Linked DNA regions of Homo sapiens. The protein of the gene in region 1 interacts with the protein of each later gene in a biochemical or structural test. Each region holds a gene or a part of one and is shown on either strand. Other genes may lie near its edges.

Region 1 (9,024 bases):
ACCAGCCTGGACAACATAGAGAGACCCTGTTTCTACAAAAAATAGAAACAATTAGCCAGGCATGGTGGGGTGCACCTGTAGTCCCAGCTCCTTGAGAGGCTGAGGCAGCAGGATCGCTTGAGCCCAGGAGTTCAAGGTTGCAGTGAGCCATGATTGTACAACTGCACTCCAGCCTGGGTGATGGAGTGAGACCCTGCCTCTAAGAAAAAGAAAGAAAAAAAGCAGGAGCAGAAGAGAGATGGAGATGGTCAGCAATGGGGGCAGGGCTGGTTTAGGTTTGGTGGGCAGTCAGACATCTCCTGGGAGTGAAGAAAGCAAGGGTAGACAGCTGGGCGCGGTGGCTCACGACTATAATCCCAGCACTTTGGGAGGCCAAGGCGGGAAGATTGCCTGAGGTCAGCTATTCAAGGCCAGCCTGGCCAACATGGTGAAACCCCATCTCTACTAAAACTACAAAAAATTAGCTGGGCATGGTGGCTTTCACTTGTAATTCCAGCTTCTCAGGAGGCTGAGGCAGAAGAATCACTTGAACCCAGGAGGTGGCAGAGGCTGCAGTGAGCCAGGATTGAGCCATTGCACTCCAGCCTGGGCAACAGAGTGAGACTCCGTCTCAAACAAAACAAAACAAAAACATCTGGTGGAAGAGCATTCTGGGCACAGGGAACAGCCAGTGCTAAGGCCTTGAAGTGGGAGCATGAAGGTGAGTTTGAGGAACAGCCAGGAGGAGCCCAGTGTGCTGCAGTGTCCTTTGATAATGCTCAGCACTCTGTGCATTCACTGAAGGCCACTAGGGACAAAGTGTCCTACACAATGTCATTTCCCTTCACCCAACTACTATCATGCCCATTTGACAAGCCAGAGATACTGAGGCTCAGAAAGTGGGAGCCTGTTGCTGGTGGCAAGAGGGGACCTTTGGAGGTTGCACAGCAGTGCCGTGATGGAAACTCGGGCATGGGAAACACCAGCAGTAGCCATTGCCCAGCTGGGGGCCAGGCCAGGCCAGGTCCCCGGGCCTCCTCCTCGCCTGTGGCCCAGGCCTGCAGAAGCACATTTTACAAATGCAGACAGCAAGGCCTCCACTCTGGCTGGGTGACCCTGGGCAAGATCTTTGCTCTCAAACCTCAGTGTCTGCATCTGTAAAAGGGGTGTGAAGCTCTGTTGTTTACAGGACTGGTCTTTGTGGCCACTCCTCTTCACAACCCTCGAGGGACACGGGACTCTCACACCCAATCATAGATTATAATCACATTCTTTTTTTTTTTGAGACGAAGTCTCACTCTTGTCACCAGGCTGGAGTGCAATGGTGCAATCTCGGCTCACTGCAACCTCCGCCTCCCAGGTTCAAGCAATTATCCCTGCGTCAGCCTCCCAAGTAGCTGGGATTACAGGCACCCACCAGCACGCCCAGTTAATTTTTGTATTTTTAGTAGAGACAGGGTTTCACCATGTTGACAAGGCTGGTCTCAAACTCCCGACCTCAGGTGATCCATCTGCTGCAGCCTCCCAAAGTGCTGGGATTACCGGCATGAGCCACCGAGCCTGCACTATATTCAACATTCTTTATCAGTCGTTGCTATGTGGAGGTACCTCCCCCACTCCTAAGCCCTCAATGTGAGTTTTCTCATCAAATTCCCCCTCAACCCAATGGGGTCAGTCCTGTCACTGTCCCCATTTTCCAGATGAGGAAACTGAGGCCCAGAGAATCTATGTGACTGCACAGCTAGGAGATACAGAACAGAGAACTCTTTTTTTTTTTTTTGGAGACGGAGTCTCGCTCTGTTGTTGCCAGGCTGGAGCACAGTCGCGTGATCTCAGCTCACTGCAACCTCCCCTTCCTGGGTTTAAGCGATTCTCCTGCCTCAGCCTCCCGAGTAGCTGGGACTACTGGCACCCGCCACCACACCCGGCTAATTTTTGTATTTTTAGTAGAGATGGGGTTTCACCATATTGGCCTGGCTGGTCTTGAACTCCTGACTTTGTGATCCACCGCCTCAGTCTCCCAAAGTGCTGGGATTACAGGCCTAAGCCACCGCGCCTGGCCCACTTTTTGAATTTTTATGAGTATATAGTAGGTGTATATATTTATGGAGTATGTGAGGTATTTTGATACAGGCATGCAATGTGTAATTATCACATCAGGGTAAATGAGGTATCCATCACCTCAAGCACTTATCATGTATTTGTGTTTGTACTAGTTAACTTTTGTTGTTATTTAAATTATTATTAATACGAATTGCTAATATGAATATTAATAGCATTGATCATTGTTAATTTATTGCTGTTGACTCGTGTTGTAATCGTTATCTTTTTAATTTTTTTTTTTTTTTTTTGAGACGGATTTTCACTCTTGTTGCCCAGGCTGGAGTGCAATGGTACGATCTCGGCTCACCGCAACCTCCACCTCCCGGGTTCAAACAATTCTCCTGCCTCAGCCTCCTGAGTAGCTGGGATTACAGGCATGCGGCACCACACCTGGCTAATTTTGTATTTTTAGTAGAGACGGGGTTTCTCCATGTTGGTCAGGCTGGTCTCGAACTCCCGACCTTGGGTGATCCGCCTGCCTCGGCCTCCCAAAGTGCTGGGATTACAGGCATGAGCCACCGCGCGTGGCCTGTAATTGTTATTAATCCTGTGAGTCTCCGGCTTTCTGGAACTTGGCCAGCAGGAGGTGTTGGTGTTTTTCACAGCAAGAAGGAAGGGCGGTTGGACCTGCTCCCCTAAGACGGCCTGGCTTGTTTCCGGGAGCTACGGATCAGTCATGGGAATTTGAATAACCCTTTCTCTCCTTAGGTCCCAGTGACCTGCCGAGTGGGAAGAGCCGTGGCTGGCCGGCCTCCCAGTGGCGACGACGACCTCGCTGTGTTCGTGGCAGCGGCACTCTCAAATCTGGGCACGGTGATGGGAAGGTTATTTGTTGGAATCCCTTTGCCTTTCCAAGGGAAAATAAACACAAAAAGTGAGAAGTCTTGGGGTCTCAGCGAGCGCCAAAACAAAAAACTGGACTCTGGCGGGGATGTGGGCAAGAAGCGACTAAGCGAGGAAGGAAACCAGTTTGGGCCTCCGAGAAATCTGGCAGGCGAGAAGGTTTGAACCGTGATTAAAAAGGGGAAGAACCACAAGTCCCAATTTAAGTCAGCAGAGCTGCTGTCTGGGCAGTGAGAGGGAAAGTGCTTGTGGCTGGCAGATTTCAGCAGCCATTTGGCATTGGCTGGGTACCGGGCTGCTCTGTGGGTGCTGCCTGGCAGCTGCATGGCTACAGACAAGTAACTGTTCTCTCTTGGCCGCAGTGTCCCCAGGTATAAGAAAGTGATCAAATAATATGGGATGATCCATTCAGACTTTTTTTTTTTTTTTTTTTAGAGACAGAGCCTACCTCTGTCTCCCAGGCTCGAGTGCAGTGATGCAATCTTGGCTCACTGCAGTGTCCACCTCCCAGGTTCAAGCGATTCTTCTGCCTCTGCCTCCCCAGTAGCTGGGACTACAGGTGCGTGCAACCATGCCTGGCTAATTTTTGTATTTTTAGTAGAGACAGGGTTTCACCCTGTTGACCAGGCTGGTCTCAAACTCCTGACCTCAGGTGATCCGCTGGCCTCAGCCTCCCAAAGTGCTGAGATTGCAGGTGTGAGCCACTACACCCGGCCTCGTTTAGACTTCATTGACATTCCCCCACCCCACCCCTCTTCCCACATCCTCAGATGCCGTGTGAACAGCTTGAATCCCACACTCCACAGGTCCTTCTCCTCACAACCCTCCATGGCACCCTACTGCCTTCAAAATAATTCCCAAAGTCCCCACCAAGACCTTCAAGACACCATGTGATGGGCCCACCTTTGAAACATCATCTCTTACCAGTATAGGTGTCACCACTGCCTTTATGACTTTATTCCAAAGCACCACATGTATTCCCACCTCAGCACCTTTGCACATGCTGTTCCTTTGGCCTGGAATGCTCTTCCCTCAGACGTTATAGCACCTGGATCCTTCTTGTCATGGAGGGTTCTAAGCTCACATGTTAGTTCCGCAGAGGTGTCCTTCCTGAGCCCTGGATCTAAGACATCCCCTTCCAGCTCTCCATCCCGTAACTGTTTTGTCATTGTCATAGCTGATCCCACTTGCTTATTCGTGCCTTATGTCCCCCCACTAGAATATCAGCTCCACGCAGGCAGGGATATCTGTGTTGTTCACTGCTGTGTTCCCAGCGCCTAGAACAGTGCCTGGAAATGTGCGGAAAGCAGATTTTTGTGGCCTTTTTCTTCAAGGTCATTGGACACCAGGAATCCTGTAGCAGACCGCTCCCTTCCCCCATCTACTCGGAGTCTGGAAATCCCCACCTTCTGGGGAACCCCTTCCTGTAGTTCTAAGGTCAGGACTGGGGCCGATTTGTTTAACACAGAGAGCTTCCTGGAGCCAAGCCTCGAGCTAACTGCTTTAATGCATTAACTCACTTAATTCTCACTGCCAGGAGAGTGGGTACACATTATTTCCATTTCATAGGCAAGGAAGTGGAGAGGTACGGAGAAGTCAAGTCATTTGCCCGGGTAGGAAGAGGGGGAGGCAGTGGAATGGAGACACTTGCTGCCTGGGAAGACTCGAGGTGGCCCCTCCAAGCTGGGGGCGTGGGCGACTTGTTTCCTGTTGGGGGAGGGGGAGAAGAGTACATTCCTCCCTCCCCGCCCTCCCACATGTTGGGGGAGAGGCTGGCTGAGAGCATGTCCCACTCCGGACTAGGGGGAACCCCACTGTCCGTCTCAGCTCCCCATGAGGCCGTGGAGAAAATGTAAGTAGCCCGGGGGCGGGCAGGGGGGTGGGCGCAGAGGCCACGGAAGCCAGCGGTCGGAGAGGGCTTCCTGGAGAAAGATGCACCCCTCCTAGAATTGGGGGACAGGACGGGCGGCCGGAGCGAGGCTGGGCTATACGGGCACCGGCTGTAGCAAAGGCAAAGCTGAGGGCTGGGGCCAGAACCCAAATCGGGGGCCTGGGGCCGTGGCGGGTCGGGTCAGCATGATCGCAGATAGTCAGGGTCGGGCAGGGCTGGGCTCCCTCCCTGGGGCGATGATGAAAGCCGTGGTCGCTATTGCACCGCCCAGCCCTGCGGGCACTGATAAGGCCCTGCAGGAGGGAGTCAGCAAGGGCGCGCCCCCTGGAGGCCAGGCCCCTCGACCCTGCCCGCCCTAGGCCCCGCCCCTTCATCTGGCCCCGCCTCCAGGCGCTGAGGCACCTGGTGACCTGCCGGCGTTGAGTGGGTGGGGCTAAAGTCGCCCCGCCCCTCCGATCCTCACTTCTATCTTCAGACTGTGGGACGCGAAATCGGGTGGGCACGTGGTGGGCGTGGCTTCGCAAGGCCTCGCCTTTTTCCGGACCCGCGCCAGGAGAGCCCTCCGACCCTGGCAGCCGCGGACTAGCGGGATTGGTAGGCGGGGCCAGTCCGGGCTCCGCCCTCATGGCCCGCCCCTCCAGCCGAATCTCCGACTCGCGCGCGGCCTGAGGCGTGGCTCCTGGTGGCCCCGCCCCTGCCCCGCCCCTGTCGCGGCCGGCCTCCCCCGCCGGGCTCCGCTCGCACGGCCGGTTCCTCTTTACATAACGGCGCGGGGCGGCATGGGCCCGGGCCACCGCCTCCGCCCGGCTGCCCGCCCGGACTGTCGCGGCCCGCGGTGGCGACGGCGGCCGCTGCAAAGTTTCCCCGGCGGCGGCGGCCCGGGGGCGCATCCTCCCGCAACTGTCAAGCGCTGGCGGCGGAAATGATGAGGCGCTGGCCATTTTCCGAGCCCGGGTTTCCTGCCTGAGCCCCGCTCGAGCGAGCCGCGAGCGAGGAGCCGGCGGGCGGGAGAGGACGCGCCCAGGGCGGGGGCCCGCCCGCCCCCTCGGGATTTCGAGGGCCCGGGGGCGCGCGACGCCATGGGCCGGCCGGGCCCAGAGCTCCTGTCTCTCAGGTGAGCCCGCGTTTGCCCGCGCTCCCCTCCTCCGGGGCCGGGAGGGCTTTTGTGGGGAAAGAGGAGGCCCCGTGTCCAGTTCTGCCCGGGCTCTGCGCGTCACCCCCAGCCCAAAATACTGCCCTGCAGCCAACTCGGATGGAGGCGTTCCGGGGTGACGGCTCCCAGCGCCTACGACCCCCCACTCAGCCACTACCCCCACCCACACACGTGTTAGGGAGAGCGTTGGGGTAACTGAGGCCGTGGGATGGGGGAGAGGGCATCGCTGACGCCCCCAGCCCACCCTACGGTAGCCTCGCCGGTTGGGGGCGGCCCTCCCCTCAACTTGTGCCTGGGGAGGAGCGGTCAGGGGTCACCCATTGCTACCCTGAAAGTGAAAGTAGTCAAACTGAGGCTGTGAGCACAGATGAGCCCTTGGGTGTGGGGGCAGCGGGGGAGGATGCGCCGGCCCCTCCCCACTCCCCATTCCGGGCCATGTGGCTAAGAGGGTAGCGCCCTGATTCAGGAAGCCCCTCTCCCCAGTTCCTGCACTGCCGAGGTCGACCGGGCCAGGCCCCCGCATGCTGCTGAATTGGGCGGTTCACCAGGGCTAGGCGTCCCAGAGACAGGTTTCTGGTATTGATCCTCTCACACCTCTTGCCTGGGGTTCCCTGGGAATCCCCCGACCAAAAAACGTCTGGAGTGGGTGTTGGTCTTCTAGATCCGCACGGTAGGGATGGTATTTCAGAGGTCTCTGATGCCTGGTGCAGAAATCCCCTTCCCTCCCTTCCCTCCCTCCGGCCAGGGGAGCTTTGTTTTGAGGGAGGGGGACTGCATTTGAGGAACTGGAGAGGAGGGTCTGCCTGCCTGTCCCGCTTCTTTTTTTCTTTAGTTTCCTCATTCTCCTGTTTCTCTTCCCCATTCCCAGCCACAATGATGTAGGTGAGGAGGTCACTGCCTGCAGCTGGGGGCCTCCAGGGAGGGGCACGGCCAGGCTGGGCTGAGTGGGAGGAAGTGAAATCTGGTGGGGGGTTCAGAGCAGAGGCCCCGGCAAGGCAATGTCGGCAAGGCCAGCTTTGGTGGCAGGAGGGACCGAGATCTGACCCGCAGCCCCTCGCCGGGGAGATGACAGTTCCCTAACACCGGCTAGCAGCCAGGCCTCAGGGCCCCTGCCAGGGCAGTGGGCCTGTGGGTCTCCAGGGATGCAGGCGCAGGTTGTGTCTGGGTTTCCCATCACTGACCTGGCTGCCTGAGTGGAAACAGCTCTGGAGGCTCCTCGGGACCTGCCCTCGTGGAGGGAGAGCCGTCAGAGGCCACCTGGGCAGGCTGGGCTCGGAGGATGAGAGCCAGGGCCTACTGGGGGAAGTTGGAAGGGTTTTTAGTGCACTTTTCCTGAGCCTTTTCCCACTACCCCCTCTGGGAGGGAAAATCCTTCTGAGCCAAAGGGTGAGCATTCCTAGAACTTTTGTGAGTCCCTGTGGGCCACAGAGCGGCCAGCTGGGAAGGGGCTGGCTCAGAGCATCAGCAGCTGGGGGCTCAGGGTCTGCAGGGGCTCAGCAGGAAGTGGAGGAGGATAGTGAGGAGGGTCCTGGAGACTGTGCTTTGCTACTCCTATTGCCTTCGTTCAGCTGAAGGCGTGGGCAAGTGACTCTGCCCTCAGTTTCCCTCTGTGTAAAATGGGGGAGTAACAGGTTTGCAGTGGAGATTTAATGAGCCAGTGTGTAATGAGCACCTGCTGCCTGGCAAAGAGAGGTTCAGTTGCAGGTGGTGGTGGTGGTAGTGGTGATTTTATCATTGCCTTCATTAGTGTTACTGTTATTGGCTATGAGGTGTTCCTTCAGTAGTCTCCCTTGAGCATCTCTTGCATACATAGCACTGGAATTTCCTGGGTCTTTGGGAGCAGAATTTTGAAGATCTGGGCACTTCCTTAGCTATAAGGCCTTGCTTAACTGCCCCACCTCAGTTTCCTCATCTGTGAAATGGGTGTGCTAATAGTACCTACTTCCTAGAGTCATGGGAACCATGAATGAGTGAATTCACAGTGTCCAGAGTGGCTTGGTCAGGAGGAAGAGAAGAAGTAGCCTTGGGGCCGGAATGATCTTTTTTGTTGTGGGTGTTAGCTCTGCTGGCTTTCTTTCCTCATCCCCCCACCCCCACCCCCATGCCTCTCAAACCTGGGCCTGATCCTCCTTCTCCGATAAATAGAACTTTTGAGTACAAATCAGATCCCACAGGACTGCTGGGCCCTTGGATTTCTGGCTCCCGCTGTGCCACCCCCAGACATTCTCCATATCCCAGGTGGAGCAGAGCTGGAGGCACTTGGAGGGACCTCCTCGCTGCCAGTCTCAGTGCCACCTGTCTGTGGTGAGGGGAGACCGGGTGCCCTCCCCAGCCAAGGTGGGGAGGGTCAGTGAAGGGGGTCTCAGGGACATAGTAGGGAGCTGTCCCACAGTCTGGGCCAATACAGCTCCTTTTGCTGGAAACACCTTTGGGACCCAGTTTACATGACCCCACACCCTTCTGAGGGCTGGTGTTCATGAGGGTCTCCCATTGCTGGGGATCCTTGGGTTGATCACTTAAGCTCTCTGAGGCAATTGAGACAACATCTGTGAAAGGCTTTAACAGCTGTGCACTTGCTGTGACATGGCACATAAGGCACTGAGCGCTGAGCCTGGCACTCAATTAACAATAGTAGATATTATTGCTATTAATAAAACAAGAGGCTTTTCCTGCTAAATTCCCACTTCTCCCTGGTAGCAGTATGGACTTTGGGGCCAAATCTGGGCTCTGCCAGCTTCCAGGTGTGAGGTCCTAGGCAGGTTACCTGGCTTCTCTGATCTGGACCTCGCCTGCCCGATGGAAGCCAAGAGTTCCAGCCTCCCCAGGGTTGGGTGTGTGAAGTACAGTGTCAGGACTGGAACTGTGTTGGCTGTACTTGCTCTGGCTGTGTGATCTTGGGCTGGTCCCTTAGCCTCTCTGAGCCACAGGTCTTTTTGTCTATGAAATAGGGGGGTTGCCAACTCCCTGTTAGGGTGGTTTTGAGAAAAGGAGGCATGCACAGTGCCCGGCATGCAATTGGCACTCAATAAGTGCAAGCCATTGCTGTTCATGCCCA
Region 2 (8,055 bases), on another chromosome or scaffold:
CTTCCTAGATGTACCCAGTCCAACAGAAGTCATGGTTATTTTGCCCAGTCCCCTATACTGTATATTGCTGCAGTTGTGTGGTAGATTTCTCCTATCCTTTTCATGCACTTTATATCCACTGCATCTTGCAATGGCAAGACATTGCCTCCTGAACTCTTAACACCAGGTCCTCAAGGAGACCTCAGTAAATATTATTGATGGGCAATTACCCCTTAAAGCCATTTTCTGTACCTCTGGCTAAAGTTTAAAACCCCAGGTGAAACTTTTTATTTTTTTTTAATCCTATAAACTTGAGTAGTTTAAAGTGGTAGTAGAAACTGTACAAAACCACTTTTTGTTAGTTTCTCCTGGGCATGTGCTCATTATATGAAGAAATGAGCCATTTTGCTTCTTTCCGAAACCTTGGCCCTATATATATCCTTTAACTTTCTGATATAATGGCCTAAATTGTTCAATCCTGTGTGATGTTCTTTGTGCTTTGGGATCCCATATGGGATTGGAACCACCAGCACACTCTGAAGGAGATTGTTGTCATGGTGTTTCTATGCTAATCAGAAGCAGGAAGTACTAGAAATCTTGAAGAGTCTCCAGCCAAATGTTGCAGATTGAAGAGGTCCAGATGGTTCAGAAAATCATCCAAATTATTGGTGTTTATCTGAACCAACTTGATTTTTTTTTAAACCTTCCTCCATCAGTCACTATATGTTAACGATCTCTGCCTCCTGCATAACACGTCTTGGAAGCTCTTCTTTGTCTTTCTTTCATCTTGTCTCCTGGGGCTCATTTAGAGAGTTTGAGGTAATACGGGATACCATATTTGGCTCTCTGTCTCCCATTAAATTCATTGTGTCAAGAGACGGGAAATTTCTAACCTGAGTCCTCTATATGATTATACACAAAAAGGACACCTAGTTTCTGGGCATGGACCCCAATATCGATTATTAAAAACTCATTTCTTACAGAACAGGATTTTCAAACTCTTTATTCAAACTTTACATGACTTTCCTCAAATTGGTCCAGTCTATTATGTAGCAAAGGGGATGAGGAGGTAGAGCATGACCCATGAGTGCCCTTCTACATGTCCCACTTGATTCAGTCATGACTTGTTTCATCTCTCCCAGCAGCGATAGTACTAATGAGTACATGGACATGAAACCTGGAGTTTCTTATGTTGTCCCAACCAAGGCCGACAAAAGGAGATCTGTGAGAATAGGTGAGTACCTACCTATCAAGCAACCAAGAGTAACTTTACAGAGAGTATGTATATCATGCTAATGTGGAATATAACATCATTCCCAGTAGCAATGATGCAGACCAGTTCTGCTTTATGGTAGCAGTGCCAATGGTCAATGGCAGTTAGGGTTGCAAGTGGGTGTTTGGGGTCAGAGCATATGTTTTTGTGCCTGAGTATCTTTCTATAGATATGGGATCTTTGCTTTAATTCGCCATCCCTCTCCTCTATGGATTTTGTAACCCAGCCTAGGATTGTTAAATATTAACTTTGTGATTCAGCATCTACCTTTCCTGGACACCAGGGAAGTGATCTGCCTGCAAGTTCACATTAGTTCATTCATTACCAGCCTTTGGTATGTCATTGCCACTGTCTTTTCCTTTCCTGACCTTTATGGTTGTAATTGCTAAGAAAAATCCTCTCTTCCTCACAGGCTCATACATAGAAAGAGATGTGACTCCCGCCATCATGGAGGATGACGAGTTGGCCCTAGACTTAGAAGACTTGCTGAGCTTTTCTTACCAGGTGGCAAAGGGCATGGCTTTCCTCGCCTCCAAGAATGTAAGTGGGAGTGATTCTCTAAAGAGTTTTGTGTTTTGTTTTTTTGATTTTTTTTTTTTTTTTTTTTTTTTTGAGAACAGAGCATTTTAGAGCCATAGTTAAAATGCAGAATGTCATTTTGAAGTGTGGTAACCAAAAGCAGAGGAAATTTAGTTTCTTCATGTTCCAACTGCTGTCTCTTTGGAATTCCTGTTCTAATTTATAAGCTGTAAAGTACAAGCCTGTCTAAATGAGTTTTTCTATGAATATTCTTTTATATGCAGTGAAATTCTTTTAAAACTTTTGGCTTTTAGGATATAGGATATGTTCCTAGAGAACAGAATCATTTTATCAGTAAAAGCAGAGGGCACCTCATAGTTACAAGGCTTGGGGTGAAGCATAGACTTGAGTTTTATTGAAGTTAGATCCAAATATTATATGTGTGGCTTATGAAGTGTCAGGAAATAAGGGGTCAGAGGGAGTAATAAACACTTGGGAGAAGGTTAGGAATGGAAAGAATGATGGAACCAAAACAAGGAGCATGGTCTGTGGAAGGGTGAAAGGAGTTCCTTAGGAAGTAAGATTAACCGAACAGAATGAGTTACCAGTCCTACCCTTAAATGTCATGGGTGACATTTCCCAACAATTACCAAACTAAGAAAGGATATAAGATGGCTGAAATAAAGACCTTCTTCCGTGTGTCCTTGGGAGATGTCAGATTGAATTTGCAAAGGCATATTAGGAACTCTGTGAAAGGACATTCAAAGAGATGCATGCAAAATGAATTTTCAGTTTAAACAATATGATATGACTATTTCTTATGTATTTCCCTATGAATGAAAGCAGTCCTGAGAAGAAAACAGCATTTATTAGAATTGCTTTTAAAAGAGATTATAATAATTAGACTCTTGATTATGTGAACATCATTCAAGGCGTACTTTTGATTTTTATTTTTGGTGTACTGAATACTTTAAAACAAAAGTATTGGATTTTTTATAATATAAGCAACACTATAGTATTAAAAAGTTAGTTTTCACTCTTTACAAGTTAAAATGAATTTAAATGGTTTTCTTTTCTCCTCCAACCTAATAGTGTATTCACAGAGACTTGGCAGCCAGAAATATCCTCCTTACTCATGGTCGGATCACAAAGATTTGTGATTTTGGTCTAGCCAGAGACATCAAGAATGATTCTAATTATGTGGTTAAAGGAAACGTGAGTACCCATTCTCTGCTTGACAGTCCTGCAAAGGATTTTTAGTTTCAACTTTCGATAAAAATTGTTTCCTGTGATTTTCATAATGTAAATCCTGTCTAGGGATATCACACATTTTAGCAGTCAAATTAAGTATACTTCAGCAAAATTTGCATGGTATGCTGAACATTACTACAACTAACATTCAATAATAGAAGTCCTAATTCTAATTGTGTAATTTTGGGGCATGTGAAGGAAACAGAAATAGCCTTAATTTTCATTATAGCCTGAGAATAGCAATGAACTTGATTTTGCTCAAGTGTAACAAATGTAGGTCATTGAAGGTCACAGCAGGAGAAATTTTGGGGGGATTGGCATGCCGTGTGAAAAATATTAAAATCTAAGATCATATTCAGAGTTAGCCATATAGAATGTTGGATCCTAGAATACACGGAGAGCTATTAAATAGGTTCATAAGTAATAATGGGTTTGTAGAACATAGCAAATGTTTTTCAAAGTGCTGTATTTCCTTGCCAATTTTTATTGAATCCTCAGAACAAACCCTTGTCCTATAATTGCAGCACCTTCCTATTTTAAAAGTTGGAGAAACTAAGGCATGGCATATTTTAGTGCTTTTTATCTGAGGTGACACAGGACAATAGAGGCTGAAACTAGAGCCTGTGATTTCCAGAGTGGCATCCCATCGCCATGGAAAACCATATTGCCCTTTATAATATTCTCTGCCTGTCTTCCTGGGCCCATTTCTGCAGTCCAGATTTATTCCTGGAGGTGGATTTTTGTGCCCCTTATGATAATGTAATGTTTTCCCCCCATCACTGTGGCGTCTCTATTGGTAGCCTGTACTCGATTTGGTTTTGTAAGAGTGTTTCTGTGTTTATCTCCTGGCCAAAGCATGAATTTCTGAAAAGGCTGCCCTGAAGCTAGATATTATCATCAGGAGTGATAATAAAAACAACTTCTCTTCATCCTGGTGCAATTTTGGAAGGAAGAATGATAAGTCGTTAATTATCCAGTCCTCTGAATATTGACCAAAGGGAGGAGGAAGAAGGTGGCCGCCTCCAGGCCCAGTCTTGATGAATTCTGCAATCTGTCTCCATTATTTCATGCCTGTGTAATTTTGTCAAGAGTTGTCCAATACCTCTGAATCTTTGTTTTTCTCCCCTTGGGAATAATAGTGATTCCTGACTCAGAAAGTTATGAGTTAATATATGTAAAGTGCTTATGACAGTGCCAGACATATTGTTACTATTCTTTATAGATGTCTTATTTACGATCTAAATAATCGTGACGGTGGTTACATACTGTCTTGTTATTGGTTAGTGACCTTAGTTTGAAATGACAAAGAGGGGTTGGCTCTATCAGGCTTCCAGATTGTAGACTCCAGTTCAAGTCAGTTGAACTAACCAATCACAGATCTCGCTTTCACCAGGCTAGTGGGTAAGGAGAATTTCTGGAACAAGATAAGAAGAAGGAAACTCATATATGTTACCGCCCCACATTTTTGTCATCATCATTTGAGATCTCCTTGTTGTGTCAGGTTCTCTGAAGTTCTTTCCTTTCACATGAGTTCTTCATTGTTTTTCATGTCATGGCCCCTTTTAGAGCCTGGTAAAGCCTATGGGACCCTTATCAGAACACTGTTTTCAACGCCTATGATGAAATACATAGGAATACCAAGGAAAACAGTTAAATCGAAATAGCTATGAAGATACTAAGTAAATTTGTGATATGTCAGTACATGTGTTTACTATAGAGTGTAACAGGCTCTGTTAGGTTGGTGTAAAAGTAATTGTGGGTTTTGCTATTTTTTCTAAAAACCACTGTAATTTTAGAGTGGTGATTAATGTAAATATGATTTTGAGATACCTATAAAGACTTAATAGGATATGAAGATATTTATGATTACTGTTCATGACAAAGTCACAGGTACAGCTGATACTACTGCGTTTTATCACCTTTGTTAGTAATTTAAAGAAATGCTAAATTTCATCTAGAAATTAGCGAAAATAAGGATGTCATTTTTCCTTTCCAAGTTCACAGGCCCCTGAATTTGACACCCATAGATCTCAGGTTAGGAGCCCTTATAGGAACTTTAGCACAACATCTAGGAAGGGAAGGGATATTGGAAGTTTTTTGTTTTGTTTTTGTAAGCTGACTAAAATAACTTTAACACCAAAAAAAAAAAAGAAAAAAAAAAAAAGCTTTCCCAGTTTTCAATCCTAAATGGATTAAGAGAAGGATTGATTTAGCTTTTTATGGCAGATTAAGATTGGGAATCCAGAATGCATCTAAAAGGACTAGTTACAGAAAGTTTAGCTCAACTTTAATGGAGAGAGTTCTCCAAAGAGTCAGGATCACAAGCCACTACTGTTTATCAAGTACTTGCCTTTCTTCTAGGCAATTTTTCAGATAGCACTGAGTCAGGCGGTGCTAAGCATTTTTACCCATTTTATCTTATTTAACCCACAAGACAATTCATAAAATTAAAAGTATTCATTTTGTTTTACAGAAGAAGATACTGAGGCTTAATTACAAATATTTTAGTGACTTTCCCAGTGTATTAGAGAAAGTTTTGGGTTTTGACAGAAAACCCAAAATAAAAGAAGTCTAGGAGTAGACTTTATACCAGGATTGGTATAAAGGTTCCATGGAGTACCCGGGCAAGTCTTTCCTTTCCATGCTTAGCCATTCCTGAGTGTAACCCCCATGTCCATGGTCCAAGATGACCACCAGGTGGATAGCCAGCCATCATATCCAGAAGGCAGGGGGCCCTTGCACTAGAGAAGAGAGGGCAGAGGGCACGTGCCAGCTATATTGTAAGGAGGTTTTCCTGAAGCTGCTATACAGCACTTACAACTTAGTGGCCAAAACCGAGTCACCTAACTACAGCTAGCTAGCTGCAAAGGAGGCTGGGAAATGTAGTCCTAATTGTGAGAGGCCGTGTTTCTGTTTTTAAGGAAGGAGAGGGACATATTCAGTGGAAACTAACAAATCTCTGCATTACCTAAGGCCCATGGTGGAGCCAGGGCTAAAATGTCTGGCTGTCTCTGACGTTTGTGCTCTTAATCTCCATGCCGTACTGACATAGTGCTCACATCTTAAAATGGGGATAATGCACTTGTGAGCCATGTATTTCAGAGGTGATTGGGATCATCTGAGTTCATATAGGTAAAAGGTTTTTGTGAGATGGTACTCAAGTTATCACTCCACATTTCAGCAACAGCAGCATCTATAAGAATATCTTCTGTTCAATTTTGTTGAGCTTCTGAATTAACATTATTGACTCTGTTGTGCTTCTATTACAGGCTCGACTACCTGTGAAGTGGATGGCACCTGAAAGCATTTTCAACTGTGTATACACGTTTGAAAGTGACGTCTGGTCCTATGGGATTTTTCTTTGGGAGCTGTTCTCTTTAGGTAAAATGATCCTTGCCAAAGACAACTTCATTAGACTCAGAGCATCTTCTTGAAGTTTCATTGGTGTCCTGCTTCCTTGTGATTAACACTGCTTTGCAAACTGTGTCTCAGGAAGCAGCCCCTATCCTGGAATGCCGGTCGATTCTAAGTTCTACAAGATGATCAAGGAAGGCTTCCGGATGCTCAGCCCTGAACACGCACCTGCTGAAATGTAAGAGCCAAAAAATTTTTCCTTTAGGTCACGTTTTCCCTTTTATTTTTCTTTTTAGAGACAGAAACCCAGATGTTGAGGGTTTTCATAACACAGTTTGAAATGTCACTTGGATTCTTTATGACACACTGGTCAAATGTCATTTCTGTAGTTTATTTTCATAATCTCTTGTCACCAAAAATACAGAAAGTTTCAGTAATATTTCATACATGCAGTGTTTTATGTTATCTATATGTCAGTCCATATGTCCAGTTGCATAGCCCTGGAATTATTACTGAAGTTGCTGGATGCCCATACATTTGAAAACAAGCTGAGGGCATTGAGGAGGGATAGTAAATGGCCCTTGTCTTGCAGGTATGACATAATGAAGACTTGCTGGGATGCAGATCCCCTAAAAAGACCAACATTCAAGCAAATTGTTCAGCTAATTGAGAAGCAGATTTCAGAGAGCACCAATCATGTGAGTATACCCTGGCCAGGCATAGAATCCCCCTTCTCCCAGTTCCAGGTGTGTCCTCCTCCTCAGGCTTTCAGGGTGAGGACTAACCTCCCAACCCCTTCTCTCCTAATCTTAGGTTGCAAATTGGGCTTCAGGTAGGGGAAGTAAAGCAATGGAAACTAGTTCTTTCTGCCCAGCCCTCCTGTTCTGAGCCAAAGAAGGATGTGAGATTGAGGGGGAAGGGTGGAGAGTTTTGTACTCACTGGAAGTAGAAGTTTCCATAAGGATTTGCCATGTTTCCTCCCTCATCTCAAATGCTGGTCACGGGGTCAGTATTTTCTCCCTCTCACATGTCAGGGCCATGCATCCTTTGGAGGGTTGGGGTGATGTGAACTAGAATAAAAGCATAGAAAAGACAGCTTGTTACTGCAGTGAAATAAGCCTTCTGATCAAACAAGCATAGCCAGAAAATGGCAGATAGCTGTCATGCCCACAAGCCATATAGAATGAAGAGCTGTTTGAAGTTGGGAGATCCCTCCCAGTGATTTGGGAAGTGTGGGGGAATGAAAACTCAAATCCATTATTTCCTCTCTTTTTAAGCAAGAATTAGTGATACTTTGACTCAGATTTTTTTAAGCTGCTTTCTTTCCTGGGCTGTGTGCTTGGAGCTATCTTTTCTTTCCTAATAGCACACCACTGATAATTTTTGGGTTAAAGCTTGTTCTTCTGGGTGTCAAAACATGTTTCAAATTGAACAGCATTTTCCACCCAGTTGCTTTGATTCTTGACAAGAGACCCCTGGAAGGGCCGTGGGTTTCCCAGCAAATTACATTGGTTATTGGGTTGTAGTTGCTGGAGAGATTTACAAGCCTTTTAAATAGGTAAGATAGTGCTTGGTGCCTGGTGTGCCCTTTTAGAAGAGCTAAGCTTGTGCATGTTTTGTCCCCACTTCTTGTATAAAGTTATTTCCTTGGAAAAATGAAGGGGGAAAACAAAGCTTAT

The links.
Region 2: the proteins of SH2B3 (region 1) and KIT form a complex in vitro, tested with the Homo sapiens proteins (2 studies listed by BioGRID and IntAct, with this or other methods).

The regions. Positions count from the first base shown.
Region 1 is NC_000012.12:111,400,348-111,409,371, forward strand, and holds the start of SH2B3 (SH2B adapter protein 3), read left to right. Parts: upstream 1-5,575; 5' UTR 5,576-5,930; intron 5,931-9,024. UniProt on the Homo sapiens protein: Links T-cell receptor activation signal to phospholipase C-gamma-1, GRB2 and phosphatidylinositol 3-kinase.
Region 2 is NC_000004.12:54,730,207-54,738,261, forward strand, and holds part of KIT (mast/stem cell growth factor receptor Kit isoform 1 precursor), read left to right. Parts: intron 1-1,121; coding exon 1,122-1,213; intron 1,214-1,664; coding exon 1,665-1,792; intron 1,793-2,863; coding exon 2,864-2,986; intron 2,987-6,291; coding exon 6,292-6,403; intron 6,404-6,514; coding exon 6,515-6,614; intron 6,615-6,968; coding exon 6,969-7,074; intron 7,075-8,055. UniProt on the Homo sapiens protein: Tyrosine-protein kinase that acts as a cell-surface receptor for the cytokine KITLG/SCF and plays an essential role in the regulation of cell survival and proliferation, hematopoiesis, stem cell maintenance, gametogenesis, mast cell development, migration and function, and in melanogenesis.